Regions from separate parts of the Homo sapiens genome. Here region 1 is linked to region 2. The links come from fine-mapping of genetic effects on gene expression. A gene starts in region 2. The other region holds a variant in brackets. All regions are shown on one strand. Distances are from middle to middle.

What was found.
Region 1: its variant is fine-mapped to the expression of STAM in atrial appendage (GTEx, PIP above 0.99). The same link has a PIP of 0.9 or more in left ventricle.

Annotation. Positions count from the first base shown.
Region 1 is chr10:17,728,625-17,736,962 of GRCh38, forward strand. No RefSeq gene overlaps it. Among named protein-coding and RNA genes, the nearest start is that of TMEM236, 19 kb to the right of the region's middle. RefSeq lists a silencer at 5,963-6,163. The variant T/G (reference allele first, on the strand shown) is at 5,054.
Region 2 is chr10:17,639,333-17,647,670 of GRCh38, forward strand. It overlaps STAM (signal transducing adaptor molecule), which reads left to right and starts at 4,819. Exons shown (of 14, transcript NM_003473.4): 1 at 4,819-5,047. The coding sequence starts at 5,008. It overlaps STAM-DT (STAM divergent transcript), which reads right to left and starts at 4,586. Exons shown (of 1, transcript NR_110370.1): 1 at 1,952-4,586. RefSeq lists enhancers at 3,773-4,421, 4,422-5,071, 4,494-4,563, 4,714-4,833.

The sequences.
Region 1 (8,338 bases), 89 kb after region 2:
CTAGTGGCTAGAATAGAATTACATTAGGCTACGAGTTAAATTACCGTGCTTTTGCTTCCTTCATTAAGATAAGTAGTAGAGTATTTCTACTTTTCTTCATGCCTCTCTTGTATTTGAAAAAGAATAATTTTCTTAAGGTTTTTAGCATGATGGAAGCAAATTACATTTTTATTTTAACTTTTCACCAACATTTGTAGATATTTAACTGTGCTGAGTTGTATATTTTAAAGGCAAGAAAAAGCCTTCAGATTTTTATTTGTCAGAGCATATTTGTTGAAACATGATTTTGTTTATGCTTGCAGTGGGGAAAATTTAACATTGAATAAGTGCCTGGTTTATGCTAAATGTTTGTTTTATGTACGTAGTAATTTAAAATGGTCTCGGGATTTTCTTCAAAGTTTAAACGAAGATAGTGGTATTAAAAGCTAAAGGAGCGGTGTTTAGGTAATATGTCTTAGTAGTTTTGTCGCAAGGAAATATTTTGAGATTAAAACTTTGAAGTGCTAGTGCTTGTTTTTGACCAAGTGGTAAACATCACTAAATTAAAACTGAGTAGCATGATCTGAATTACTGTTTAATGTCTTTTGAAAATGACATTTCTAAATATTCATGGCTTATTAATCAAATGCTGTTTATAATTCATTTGTTTCTCGATGTTTATTCCAAGAGCTGTCATTTGAGAAATGTAAAATGCTATACAGAATGCTTAAAATAAGAGAATTCTGAACATTAGGGGTGGTTTCCAGCAGATACCTCTTGGATGTTGGACTTGAATTGCTATAATTTTGATGAAATGATGCTCACAATAGAATGCAGTGAATCCTGCTGTTAATGCACAGTTGCCTTCTAAAAACCAGAATGCTCGGCAAAATTGTACAATAAAGAGGCCTTAGGATATATGGGGAAAACTGGGTTAGAGGCTCAGCAACCCAAAACTTCAACAGTGACATACCCAAGAATAAAGATAAGAATCTAATAAGAGCAGCACAGTTTGACACATGTTAAATGGTTAATAAATATGGCACTTTACCTTGGAAAAGACCTGAAGTGTGCCTGTAGAAGTGGGCATAGGAAGGGTTGCAGCTCATGAATTAAGGTGAAGCTGTGGAAGGAGAGTCAGCTGGAATCAGAGGGTGAGTTCTAATCCCAGGACTGGGTAAGTGTGACTCAGTACTTGCAGTGAACGGAGGCTGCTCACTCGTGTTCTGTGTGTTCCGATGCTGGGTGTGGTTTTCCACATTTCACCTAGCGTTGCTCCTGGATGAGACCATGCGTAAGCAAATTGTGAAATTTGCGTTCTGCTCATATTCCTTGTAGTTCTGCTCATATTCATTATTAATTTCCTGGAACAAGTTTGTGTTTTCCAAACAAATGTGATATCAATATTGACTTTAAAAGACACTTTGTGGTGGAGAATGAGTGGCTATTTACCATTTATTTCTACCCAGAAAAATACTCTTTGTACTTCTAAATGAATAAGAATTGTGGACAACCTCTAAGGTACAAAACTCTTTCTTCCCCCTTACCAGATCAGAAATGATCCCCACTGAACATGTAAACACATTTAGATTCAAATAATTATTTTATGTGTTTTGCTTAAAATGCTTAAAATCTGTGGGAAATTAAATGCCCTGTAAACCCGGTAAGAAAACACAAAACACATAAAGCCTGTGAGAAATTATATGCCCTACAATCCTGCCTCTCCCAAAAAAACAGGGAAAGAAAAGAAAATTAAGGATAAACATCACTTTTTGAGATAAGTGGTCACAGCCATTATGTCCTTAATTTATTTTTGTTTATTAACTGTTGATGGTTTGGTCTTCATTTGCTTAAGTGTTTACACTATTTTTAAGATACACTAACTGCCTTCTTAAGTTTTACATTTCATAGCACTAAATATGTCAGGCATTTATTTAAATATTTAAGTACCTTTAGAAATCAGAAAACTTGAATCCAGGACTTTTTACAAGTTCATTTTGATATCAACATGTAAACTTACTGAAAAATGAACAATAAGGAAACAGCAATGAGCCCACTCTAGTGTTAAAATTTAATTGTTACACTATGTTAGAAGATCTTTTGCACAAGTCTTCCCTCATTTACGTGTTCCACAAGCTCATTTGTAACATAGTAAGTTCTAGGAAACATTTTAGAACAATGCTGAATTTGGTGACTGGGATGCCGGGCTGGGGTCCAAACCCCATTTAATCTATGATATAACCAGAATGTAGCGTAGTGTTACTGGTATGTCTGGCTCATACCCCGTGAGTGCTTTGTAGGAAGGCACACCAAGTCCAAGGGAGACTGCCAGGGGCACATCTCCTGGTAGCCATCCGTGGGTTCTGAGGCTCCTCCACCTCCCCAGAAGCGGTGGGGCTTCTCATCGCTACCCTCAGAATACCTCGTCTAGGCCAGTATGCTGTCATCCTTTTTTGGGAGTCCCAGAGATAAATCTACCTGCCTTCTTTCCACTTTGACAGCTTTACCTGATCCATGGAAAGACTAAAGACAATTTCTCAGCTCCTCCTGTTCTCTCCCTGAAGCAACTCTTTGTGGTTTTCCAGTGGATTGAAGGCTGAACTGTAACGGATAGAGGCCCTAGGCAGGCTGATTTGATACCTGTTTATCATGATAATCCTTAAATTTGTTTTTTTTTTTTTTTTTTTCTGAGAGGCTACACCTTGTATATCCACCTGAGGAATCCGAAGCCCAACACCCATCCTTAGAGGCAGCTGAGCAACCAGTTACTGGAGCAGGGCCCTTGGTGGGGAGGGGGACAGGGGAAAGGAAGGTGGTCATTTTCCTCGCCTCTAAATGCCTCATTAAACAATCTTTTCATTGTAATGCTCTCCCAGGGTTTCAAAGTCAACGTTCATTTCATTATGATTTCCATTTCCTTATGATTCCATCAGTTTTATGGCATGTTTTATCTTAATTCTGCTGTAGGAAGCACCAAGGTAAACTAGGTAAACGTTTGCCCTGTCTTGCTTTTCATTCTTAACTGGGGGAAGATGCAAATATAGAAAAGAATGAGTATAACTAATCAGGAAAATATATTCTGTTTTCTTCTGGACATTTATGAGTTGGGAAAGATCCTGATGAGAAAAGAGATCTTCTGCTTTCCTGCTTCCCTGTCAAACTGTCCCTTGAGTGAAATAGGAAGCAAGGATAGGTGGGATGGCATGGGGCAGGCTGGGGAAGAGGAACGCCCACTGCCCAGGAGAGGCCTTGGTCCTGGGGGATTCTCCCTGTGTGTGGTCATTTCTTAAAGACTGCAGTGCTGTAGCTCCCCAAAACTTTCAGGAAATAAGATCACTCTGTGTGATTCAAATTGACAAAATAGTAGAGAAGGAACCAAAGTAGGAGATGGGTACCTTAAAGCTGAGGTTAAACTCTGCTGGCTTAGCCAGATCAGTCTGACATGTTTTATTTGGCCTGCAGAGAGTTAAAAAATGTTTTTTGAATAGATGATATTTTATGTCTACGTGATTTCCCACCAAAAATACAGACTTTTGGCTCCTTGAAAAATCCCAGATCTAGGCCGGGCGCGGTGGCTCACGCCTGTAATCCCAGCACTTTAGGAGGCCTAGGTGGGCAGATCACGAGGTCAGGAGATCGAGACCATCCTGGCAAACACGGTGAAACCCCCTCTCTACTAAAACTACAAAAAATTAGCCGGGCATGGTGACTGGCACCTGTAGTCACAGCTACTCGGGAGGCTGAGGCAGGAGAATGGCATGAACCCGGGGGGCGGAGCTTGCAGTGAGCCGAGATAGCGCCACTGCACTCCAGCCTGGGCGACAGAGTGAGACTGTCTCAAAAAAAAGAAAAGAAAAGAAAAGAAAAATCCCAGATCTAACAACGTGAGGCCTGTGTTCCCACAACTATCCATGCTGTCTCCAGTTTGCTACTGAGCCCTCCCAACTGTTGGGGAGAATCAGAGATGGACTCTTATTGAAGCAGTAAAGAGACATTTATTATTATTTTTTTGAGATGGAGTTTCGCTCTTGTTGCCCAGGCTGGAGTGCAATGGCACCATCTCGGCTCACTGCAACTTCTGCCTCCCGGGTTCAAGCGATTCTCCTGCCTGAGCCTCCTGAGTAGCTGGGATTACAGGCATGTGCCACCACGTCCAGCTAATTTTGTATTTTTACTAGAGGTGGGGTTTCTCCATGTTCGACAGGCTGGCCTCAAACTCCCAACCTCAGGTGATCCGCCTGCCTCAGCCTCCCAAAGTGTTGGGATTACAGGCGTGGGCCACTACGCCCGGCCTGAGAGATTTTATACAGAAACTATTGCAATAGGGAAAAGAGACTTGCGTCCAGAACTGGGCTCAGTGGAATACAGTAAAGACAGATGGGGACTTACAGCCAAGGGTGGAGGGGAGTAGTTCATGGTTGGAAAATCACTAAGAGGAGACCTCGGGGATAGAGAGGATTCTTGCTAAGAGCAGGCCAGGGTGATCAGATAGCCAGGGTGGAGGACGAGGGATTTGATGAGATCTCAAGGCAGGAGGGCTTCTCTCTAAACTGACCTAGCAGGATTCTTGCTAAAACTGGGCTGTGCAGGCCTGGCAAGGACGGTGGCCAAGATCGAAGCCTGAGAAGAGGTTTAGGAGGTCAAGGAGATCATCTTGTCACCACTCTTTTGCCTGACCCAGGGGATATTTGAAGCATTGCCTCCTGCTTTAAAGAGAGGGTGGATCTAAGACCTCACTGTTCATTTGGACTGTTGAGCACTTGGAATGGGCTGGTGCAATTGAGGGACTGAATTTTAAATCTGATTTCATTTGAATTAATTTAAACTTAAAAACCAGCAGTGTAAGCTATTTCATAAGCTGTTTTGGTGGGACTATATTTCATGGTAACCATTGCATCCATAGAATAGTATGGTAGTGTATGTATTTTTCACTGTTTTTTAATATGGGTGCTAGAAAATTTAACATTCCACACATGGTTGATGTTCTGTTTCTCCTGGACAGTACTGGACTGTGGCTTCTAGGACCTGGTCATGATTCTAAAGAATGTGTCTGTGGCAGACAGACTCTGGAGTG[T/G]GTCCCCATGAGCCCTTCCTTGTGACGTTCAGACCCTTATTTAATTCCCTTTCTTTGAGTATGGGCAGGACATGTGTCTTGCTGAAAACCAATAGACTATGGCAAATGCGATGGGCCATCACTCCTTGCTGACATTACGTCATGCTTTTGCCGGCAGGCTGAGCTTGGAAGCAGACCCTTCCCAAGACGAGCCTCCAGAGGAGAACCCAGCCCTGGCCAACACTTTGATCGCAGCCTTGAAGAGGACTCAGCTAAGCCCTGTCCAGATTCCTGGCCCACAGAAACTGTGAGATAATCAGTGTAGGTGGTTTTAAGCCACTAAATGTGTAGTAATTTGTTATGCAGCAATAGAAAACACGTGGCCCGGAAGGGTTGGGGCACATGGAGAACTATGGAAATCCAGCAAAAGGACGGTGCAGGATGGGAGGAGGGTGAGGACCGAAAAACTACCCATTAGATACTGTGCTCACCACCCAGGTGATGAAATAATGTACACCAAACCCCTGACACAATTTACTCATGTAACAAAACTGCATATGTACTCCCAAACCTAAAATAGTTGGGAGGAAGGCTGGGCATGGTGGCTCACGCCTGGAATCCCAGCAGTTTGGCAGGCCGAAGCGGGAGGATCACCTGAGGCCAGGAGTTCAAGACCAGCTTGGCCAACATGGTGAAACCCCGACACTACTAAAAATACAAAAATTAGCCGGGTGCAGTGGTGCACACCTGTAATCCCAGCTACTCGGGAGGCTAAGGCAGGAGAATCTCTTGAACTCAGGAGGTGGACGTTGCAGTGAGCCAAGATCACACCACTGTACTCCAGCATGAGTGACAGAGCAAGACTCCATCTCAAAACAAAACAAAAAAATGTTGGGAGGTGATAAAAAGGTAATCTAGCCAAAGGGAAATCTGCTGATGAGAGTGAATCTTAGTTGGTGTCACTTAAGTATCCTGGTCCCGTGAATAAGCTGTTTCTCAGATGCTGACTGATGCGGCTTTGGTGCTGATTAGCTGACTGTCCTTGGTGATGATTACTTTCATCCTACGTTGGTCTGCTTCAGGGAGAGGAAGTTCAGGTCCATCTGATTTTTGAAGGTAGACTCATTGTTTGTGAGAGTTAAGTGGCTGAGTCCAGGCCACTGGGGCATGGTTGAAGTTGGCCTTATCCTACTGCTTGCAGTGTGTTGGTGGTAGTTTTAATTAAATGTGCCATGGAACAGATTGGGCCCCAGCCTCTGTCAGACAGATTAATCATAGTGGCTGACGGATCGGCGTATGCATGGAAAAATTTGCCAAAAACTTAATGATGTAGAAGCGAAAGGTAGAAATGGTTGGGAGATAATCCTCCATAGTTCTTGCACATCTTGCAAGCAGAGAAAATGACAGTGCTTTTTCTAGGCCGTCTTTTCCAGGATATTTGTATGGCACACAACCTTGGGAGATACACATAGCGTCTCCTTCTGGAGCAAGGGACAGGTTTGTTTACATCCTTGGAAGATGGAGTTAGTGTCTCTCTTTAGAGCAAAGCGCAGGCAGGCTGACCGTGATGAAAGACTGAGAGATGGAGCTCAGGGCTCCTGTTTTGTTCTGCAGCTCACTGCCTTTGCCCTTGTCACTTGCCCTTCTTATCTTCCCTGTGCTTGAGGAACTGGCACAGGAAATGATACTCTGGCTCCTGCTAACGCTGTGAGTAGCGTAGTTCTTTGTCTTGGAGCCATGCCTCTGTGCCTTCTGTCAGCATTCCGGGAACTGTGGCCGGCTGACTTTTCAGCTTGCCTTCATAGGTCTTGACAGTTGTGTTGGATAGTAATAATAAAGTCAAAAAGTCGTTTCTTGTGGAACAAAAGTTAATCCACTTATGACTAAACCTTTCCCAGAATAGGGGTGGAAGCCCATGTTTTTTCATTCCCTAGGGTCAGGGGCAGGGATTTTTGTTTTGTCGGATAAAATTATTCCCATTGATTTATAAAATATGTGTATCAACAAGCAGATCTTCCTAGGAGTGAGCTGATCACACCTTTCGCAGCGGCTTACTGAATTCACCTTTTCTAGGCCTCAGTCTTATCTCTAAAATGAGAAAATTGGCTGGCTATGGTGGCTCGTGCCTGTAATCGCAGCACTTTGGGAGGCTGAGGCGGTGGATCGCCTGAGGTCAGGAGTTCAAGACCAGCCTGGCCAATGTGGTGAAACCCTGCCTATACTAAAAAAAAAAAAAAAAAAAAAATACAGAAATTAGCCAGGCATGGTGGTGCGTGCCTATAATCCCAGCTATTCAGGAGGCTGAGGCAGAAGAATTGCTTGAACCTGGGCGGCGAAGGTTGCAGTGAGCCAAGATCATGCCATTGCACTCCAGCCTGGGCAACAAGAGTGAAACTCCATCTCAAAAATAAATAAATAAATAAATATTTAAATAAATAAAATAAAATGAAAAAATTATATCTCTCTTAAAGGCCCTTCCAGCTACAGTGGCTCCAGGTGATGTGAAAAATACCATCCCTTTATTTATTCAACATGCTCTTATCTTGTCCTTACTATGGGACAGGCACCAGTCTAAGTGCTTTTCAAATAACTCATTGAAACTAGGATGATACTAATAACCCCCTGCCATAGGTGAGGAGACTGAGGCACAGAGAGATTAATTATTTGCCCAAGTTCATCCAGCAGGTGGCATAGCTGGGGTACAAACCTAGGCAACCTTTGTGCTTGTGTCCGCCATGGTGTGCTGTCTCCCATCTTGTCACTGAACAATTGATTCAGTCTCTGCTGTGTGGGAAGCCCCTCCTGAGAATGCTGGAGGCCACAGGGGAGAATGAATCAGGTCCTTGTTCTCCAGGGTCTTGCACTAATGGAGAATTTTGTATTTTTCTCTCTCCATGTGTGTGTGCGTGTCCCACAGGAGGACTCCAGATTAAGCATTTGCATGTAAGAATGTCTCATTAGAATGTGGAAGTCTACATTAAGTGTAGGTTAAAGAATTGGTTCCAGGTTTTTAGTTTGCTTATTTAAGATTGTTTAAATAAACCTTAGCGTTCTAACCTGATGGTAGTAAACTAGGTCAGACTTCTGCGGGGAACTATAGAGACATACTTGGTCCAAAGTTCTACCTATTCAATACCTAAGATTAATAAAATTGTGTATAGAAATTTAAGTAGTTATGCTGAATCACATCCCTTAAAAATGGTTTTTGTCAACCCTAATCCCCTTCATGTGTGTAAATTTAAGCTTCTCGCAGAAAATAATGGAATCTTTATTATCTGCTATTACACCAGGAGCAATCATTTTTGC
Region 2 (8,338 bases):
TTCTGTTTGTAAGCAGAAGAAATGATTGTTGTTGCCCTAAGATGCTAAATTTGCAATTTGCAGTGCTTAATTTTTTTTTTTTTTTTTTTTGAGATGGAGTTTCGCTCTTGTTGCCCAGGCTGGAGGGCAATGGTGTGATCTCGGCTCACTGCAACCTCCACCTCCCGTGTTCAAGCGATTCTCCTGCCTCAGCCTCCTGAGTAGCTGAGATTACAGGTATGCGCCACCATGCCCAGCTAATTTTGTATTTTTAGTAGAGACAGGGTTTCTCCATGTTGGTCAGGCTGGTTTTGAACTCCCGACCTCAGGTGATCTGCCCCCCTCGGCCTCCCACAGTGCTGGGATTACAGACGTGAGACACCGTGCTCAGGTATAATAGACACCTGTAACACATACCATACCATTAAGTGCTATATAATAGAGGTAGTCAATTAACAAATGGATTAACAAATATTTATTATGTGCCTATTACTAGTCAGGTACTGAGTCAGGAAAGGCTTTTAAGAAGCAAAATCTAAGCGGAAGTTTAGAGGAGATCTAGGACCTAAATAGAGTAAGAGCAGGAAAAGCAGAAAGAGTTGCTTGTTTGAAGATACAAAAAGCATGGGGGCGAATGCTAGTAGTTCAGAAAGGCTAACGTAGAGGGTAGGAGAAAAAAAACTGCGAAGAGATGAGTTACTGAGAGGTCAGTTCATTAAGGAGGTAATGCTAAAGAAGGGGGGTTTAATCCTGAAGGTAAGGCTACTCTGCACACTTGTAATCATACAATTAATTTAATTTTTTATTTAATGACTATCTTCCCCAAAGGCTGTACTCCAAAAAGGCTAAATCTCACAGAGCTTTTATCCCTATAATTCCAGCATCTAAAATGTTACCTGGCACACGTGGGAGTTAATACATATTTGCTGAATGACTGAGTAACTGAAGAAACCCTATAAGAATTTTAAGGAAATGATATATAATCAGATTTGTGTATTAGAAAAATCATTCTGGCGGTAAGACAGAGAATGGTTTAGAGGTAATAGCTGTATTAGCTAGCTTAGGCTGCCATAACAAAATACCAGAGTGAGTGACTTATACAACAGAAATTAATTTTCTTGCCGTTCTAAAGGTTGGAAGTCTGAGATCAGGGTACCAGCATGGTTGGGTTCTGGCGAGGGCTCTCTTACTGGCCTGCAGACAGCTGCCTTCTCGCCACATCCCCACATGGCAGAGAGAGGGAGAGACAGCAAGCAATCCAGTGTCCTTCTTATAAGGGCACTAATCCCATTAGCAAGGCCGCAGCCTCATGACCTCATCTAACTCTAATTATCTCCCAAAGATTCTGTCTCCAAATACCATCACATTGGGCATAAGGGCTTCAATATTTGTATTTTTGAGGATACAATTCAGTCCACAGCTGTAGGAAAGGAGAAAAGACAGCAGGAGGTGAATGTAGTAACTTGCCTAAGAGATGAGGGTATAAACTAAAGTAGTGACAATGCAGAGGAAGAGGAAAGACTGAGAAATAGTAATCATTCCTACTTGGGCTGGAATTATTAAACTGTTAAAAACCTTCCTAGGATATTCTTTTTCCTGAATTTGAAAATTATAGACTTTTTCGTGTAGTAACTCTATTTGCACACCAGTTTTTTGTTTTTTGTTTTGTTTTTTTGTTTGTTTTTTTTGTTTTTTGAGACAGAGTCTCTCTCTGTCGCCCAGGCTGGAGTGAAGTGGCCCGATCTCGGCTCACTGCAACCTCCATACCCCAGGTTCAAGCGATTCTCCTGCCTCATCCTCCTGAGTAGCTGGGATTACAGCTGCCCACCACCACGCCCAGCTAAGTTTTTGTATTTTTGGTAGAGACCGAGTTTCGCCATGTTGGCCAGGCTGGTCTCAAACTCCTGACCTCAGATGATCCACCTGCCTCAGCCTCCCAAAGTGCTAGGATTACAGGCATGAGCCACCACACTTGGCCAGTATTTTTGTTTTTAATGTAGATGAATTTTCAAAATCAAACTGAGAATAAAGGGATATAACATTTAACAAACAACCACAGAATTTATTAAACATACAACATTACAGAAACATTTTAATATGCCATTGATATGTAGTCTTCAAAACGTTTTAAAAACTGTGGTAATACTAAAAGTGAAACTCATAGAATTTCAGTATTTTAAAGGGATAATAAGGGACGTTAACCACAAAATACAAAGCATTTCACTTTTTATGTTTGTCTTTTAAGTTAAATATTAAAAATTTTATATTTAAAAAATGTTTATTATTTATACAGCACATTAATCATCGAGACCCCCCTGCCCCCACAGCTAAAGTCATTCTAGGTCAGAATGCACGGATACTGCTCTCAATACTAGTATGTATTACTCCCAGTGCACACATATTGATAATCAAGGCTTGAACAGTTTGTGCCCTGGCTTATTGCTGGCAACAGAGTAATTCAGTCCGGAGTACAGAACATGTACAAATGCATTTTCATCAATATCTGGCTCTGATACACCCAGTCTGAGCCACCAATATCTGGCTCAGGCACTTATGATAATGGCCCAAGACACTGCTCAGGATCTTAAGGTAAACAAGTTGTCACCTAATTCTGTCAGCCCAGCAATCAAAGCACATTTTTGAGAGGGAATGTTCTGACTTCCGTATCAGTCGTGATATTTCCGAATAATTCTATACTTGTCATAATGAAACACAAGCACGCTTTTGGTATTGGCCCTTCAAAACATTAAGAAACTGGTGGTACCAACATACCATTTTTGACATTGTTGTATTTTAACATTTTTTCTGCTTTTGAAAGGAATACACGCTCATCATTAAAATATTTTGAATAATAAAATGCACAAAGAACAAAAACATTGTCTAGAATCTTGCCACTCAGAGACAATCATGTCATAATATTCTCATGTATTTCCTTTCAGATTTTTAAAATTGTGGGCATTTGTAATTTTATAAGGTTTGTAACTTCCTTCTGAAAACTTGTGTATTCAGATGTCTATGTAAATATGAATCTGTATTATGCACCTTAAATGGCTGTGTAGTTTTCACATCTTATGTACTATGATTTAACTGACCAGTGTAAATTACAGTGATCAGTTACACTTATTTAGTGCTTACTCTATGCCAGGCACTGTAATAAGCGTTTTGCTTGTACTAATTCATTTGATCCTCACAACCCTATTATTCCTGTTTCTTACACATGAGGAAACTGAGACACCAAGAGGTGAAGCAATTTGTCCAATCACTCAATGTGGGACATTTAATGGCTGGCAATGCTTTGATCCTTTAGACAATGTTGCCATGTATACCTTTGTTCATGTTTTAAAAGAATGTCTTTAGGATTAATTTGCCGAAATGGAATTGCTGGGTCCTAAGGTTTTAAAAATTTTTTTACATGCTTCCAAATATTTCCCTTAGGAAGATTATACAGTATTTACACTTCATCCAACAGTATGTGAGTGTCTGACTCCTCACATCCCTGATTCTTTGCAATTTTTTTCTTTTTTTGAGACGGAGTTTCGCTCCCGGGTTCAAACGATTCCCAGCCTCAGCCTCCCGAATAGCTGGGATTACAAGCGCGCACCACCACGCCCGGCTAATTTTTTGTACTTTTAGTAGAGACGGGGTTTCACCATGGCCAGGCTGGTCTTGAACTCCTGACCTCAGGTGATCTGCCGGCCTCGGCCTCCCAGAGTGCTGGGATTACAGGCGTGAGCCACCGCGCCCGGCCGATTCTTTGTAATTTTTACCTAAATGACAAAACATTATCTAACTGCTACTTTAATTTGCACATTTCACTTTTAGAGGTGGGACTTCATTTTTAATGAATTTTTAAGCACTCTTTGATTACTATGTATTAATCCTGTGTTGACATGTCAATATTAGTTTCCACGCTACATTTGGAGATGCCGTAATTTGCGGGATAATTTCCATTTACGTACAAGATGTGCTTACTAAGTTTGTTCCAAGTGGGACGCAACATCTCTAGTAGATGCTCCTTAAAACTTCTCCATCACACAGAGAATAATTTTTATTGGTTAACTAAACTTATAAGTAAAATAAATAAACCAACATTTTGGGTTGCTAGGAATCACTCACTGATCAACTTTTAGCTCCAGTTTTTTTCTGTTTTCTTTTTTTTGCTCAGTCTAGGGAGGCTATCTTGGGCTGTGAAAGACATGTCACCAACCATCACAGCTGCTGAGTGATTGCACGGTTAGTCAGTAGGTGCCAACGCCCTGCTAGAAGAGCTGTCTGCAGATTCCAAAGCCGGGCGTTCAGGGACTCCCGGGAAGGAGCCAGCGTTACCTCAGCCTCTCCGAGGGACACGCGCGCCCTGAACACTCCCCTCTTGGGATTCAGGCCAATTCGTTCAGCTCCCATGACTTCATCCGAGCAAGTTTGTCACCTCACGCAGCTAATTAAACTGTTTACCTAGAAGATGATCCAAAGGAATTTCCATTTCCTTCCAGAGGGAATACAAGGTTATGATAACCGAGAGAGCGAGAGGAAAAAAGGCGCACAGCTCGACCCGAACTCAACCTGCTTTCTTTCTCCTGGCTCTCCCAGTCACTCCTGGGGTTGTTAGTAGGCTTCAGCACGCCTGAAGGACCCCGTCCTACGGAGACTCCTAGCCAAGGGAAAAGCAGAAAACACAAGAACTAATTCCACTCTTATGTGTGACTAATTAAAAGAGGAGTCAGGCAGAGGGGACTCCCTGTTCAGCCTTTACCGATGGGGCAGGCTCGGGGCAGCTTTGAGACAGGCAGCGCCAAGGTCGCCCAGATTCCCGACAAGCTCCGCGCGGGGGCTTCCTCGGCTCCTTGCTGTTGCCGCCGCCGCAGCTGCTGCCGCGGTTGGTGGGGTTGGGTGAGAGGAGGAGCTGTCGCGGACCCTGTAGAGTCGGTCTCTGTTGCTCTTTTTGCCTGAGGAGTCTTCCATCCTACGTCGAGCTCTGACTCCCGTGCTGTCGAGAGGGAGTCCCCGGGGACACCTCGGCACGCAGCGGAGATGCCTCTTTTTGCCACCAATCCCTTCGATCAGGATGTTGGTAAGTGTTTTTGCCTCTCCCTGCCCATTCCTCACCGGACTGCACGCTCACTCTGCCAGCCCCTGCCTGCATTCAGGACCCTCGGGCCAGGGCCAAGGAAGAGCTCGCTCTTCCCCTTTCCTGAGGCTCCCTCCTTCAGAGCTGGGAGGAGGTTGAGGGCTTGGCGCATCCTCTTTGAAAGAAATGGGACTCATCCTGTGAAATGGGCCTTGAGCTAGGACTGTAGGTTGCCAAAGAACTGCTGAATGGGTTGGTGTAAAGGGCCTGGGAGGAGCAGCTGGTGTAGCATCTGGTGCAGGGACTGTGCTTCTGGAAGAACAGCGAAGGGCTTAAGGCGTATGTTGGCTAGATTAGGATTGTAAACCCTGTACCAAAAGTGCTTGCCTAGACAAATAAATGTTGAGCGTCTGGAACTGGCAGAATGTTTTAGGTAAGGTTCCTTAGAGGATTTTAAAATCTTTTGTAACGGTAACTGAAGGAGGGAGCTCTGGTTAAGGGTAGACTCTCAAACATGTTAGGAGCGATGAAGATGAAATACTTGGCAACGACTGAAACCGAATTGAGGACCTGAGCCTTTGGGATGTCTCTCTTAGGCTAGGTCTCTGCACTTTAAAAGGTGTAAAGAAGTGTGGAAGAAGTTGTTGAATCTGGAAAGAGTTTGAAATGCTACATTTTTGTTGTTTTCTGAATCACTGGTATTAGGTACTGATGATGTCAATTCAATAGGTTTGCTTTTGGTTTTTAATTTTATTTTATTTTATTTTTTTCTGACTTGAAGATAATAATTATGGGAATTTGAGTTTCCGGGGAGAGAATTTTGGTTTAATTTGAACGCACGTAGGAACTACCTTGGCACACAAGTGTGGAATGAAAGCAAGCCAAATACCATTTCCAAATCCCTTATGGCAGAATGTAATCATTACTGTGAATAAGGACAACCTTATGAATTTACTTGTCTTTGTGTATTTTAATTATGAAAGGTGGATGTTGAATTTTTCTTTTTAAACTCTTCCTTAGAGCATGTCACTGAAACTTGGAAGTTTATATAAGAGTAGAAAAAAGTTCACTCCTTACCTCTGCCACTTCTCAGCTCACGGTGAAATCATAGGCAAGTTAAATTCTTTGAGTTCCAGTGTTCTTGTCTTTAAAGAGGGGAAAACACATCATTCCATTCTGCAGTTAAATAATATGTCTAGAGGGCCTGCTACAGTACCTTTATGTGGTTGGCACTTACTAGATGCTACCTTTTTTGTTCCACCTTAAATGAGTGTCCTGAATCTTAGCAGTGGACAGAACCTTGGAGATCACCGATTATACTTAATGAATTGGAAAATTGCATTTAATTTAATAAGCAGTTAGCACACACTACAGGACACAGCAGCTCAGTGACATAAGAGATACAGTGATGAGCAAGGCCTAGTTGCTGTTCTCAAGCAGTTTTACATCTCACTACATGAATCTCTAGGGGAAATACTTAAAACAGCTTCTTAATACTTGCTTCTTCTGTTTACAGCACCTTTGTCTAGTTTTCTTGGTCCTGTATAATTTAGCTAGCAACTACCCAATCACCTTTATATTCTACTGACTTTGTGAACACATATTTGCATTGGATTCAGGTAAATTTCTTAATGTCAAACCCGTTCCTAGTAGCTGTACCACCCAGTTCAAACACAGGCACCTTCTTGCCTTTATGCTTTTGTCCTACGCTTATGCTTTCTTTTATCTTTCAACATATCCTTGTGTGTTAAGGCCAACTCAGAATCCAACTTGTTACACCTGAGTCATTTCCTGATTACTGTAGCAAAGGGTTTCTCAGTAGCAACGTTATTGACGGTTTGGGCCAGGTAAATATCTTTGTCATAGGAGTTTGTCCTGTGCAATGTAGGGTGTTCAGCCTTATCCCTGGCCTTTATCCACTAGATGCCGGTGACACCCAGCCCCCACTCATGATTTTAGAAGTCTCAGGACATTGCTAAATGCCCCCTGGAAGGACAAAATACCTCCCAGTTGAGAACCGCTGCACTAGTCCACTCTAATTTCCACCTTCTTACAAAATCCTCTAACTTATTTTAGCATTTTTGCCTTTACCGAATTATTTAGCATTCAAGATAGTTTTATACTCCTTAATGAGAGGTTGCTACATAGGAGGTGTTTAATAATGTTTGTTGAGTTGAGAATGTGTCAGTTGAGCCTGCCAGACATTATACTTCTTCAGTGTAGCAACATTGTTTTGCTCCAGAAAAGCTTACTTTTTAAAGTTGCTCAGGTTTTGGTATTGGACCAATTCTCTTCTCACAATCCTTGTATTGAAATATTACAAAAGGTTTATCTAAGAAGACCCCTCAGAGATTCCCAGTACATAAGCCTTGCACAGAGTCCAGTAGACTCATATTATTTTTTAATAGTATAACATATAGAATACAGTGTATAGAATACACTTAACAATTTTTTCTTTCACCATATCTACCAATGAATATGTCATAACATTAAAGTAACTCATTTGATACAGTTATTTATCACTTAACACTCGTATACATTTGCACATCTTCAAAATTAATTGTCTTCAGTCTTAATCTGAGGCTGAATCAGAAATTCACTGACTGATTTATATAATATAACATTTTTTATAAAGAGACACAATGCTGGTGATAGCTTTTCCCTTGGAAGAAACACCGAAAGATGTTACTAGAATGTGAGCTCTGTGAGGACAGGGATTTTTGTTTGATTTTTTCACTGCCGTATCCCTAGCTGTAGACCAGTTTTTGGCATGCTGAAGAACTTTCAGTAAACATTTATGGAATAAATGAATCTCATTTTGGACATTATAATTCAAGAGCTGAATTTAGAAGAAACGTAAAGATAACTTATTTCATCAAGTTTGTATTTCAAAGTCTCTAGTGACTTCCACCTTGCCAAATCCAATGGTCACTTTCTAGTCCATTTCTTTTTTGATCTCTTAAGCATTCCTCTTTGATATACAGTATTTTATTCATGGGATTTCAGGACACCAAACTTTTTCTCATTTTCTACTTAGCTCCTTTTAAATTTTTTTGCTTCCCCTTTTTGCAACTTCTAAAAGTTGAGTGCCCTGCGGCTCAGTTCCGGAGCCTCTTCTCTCCTTCCACTTTTTTTTTTCCCTTAGAGTATTAGGAAGCAATTTAGCTTAGTGTTAAGAATTCAGACTGGGGCCACACTGCTTGGATTCAGTCCCAGGTTTGCTGCTTACCGGTAGTGTGATTTTTGGCCTAGTTGCTTAGATAATCTGTGTCTCAGTTTCCTTATCTTTAATAT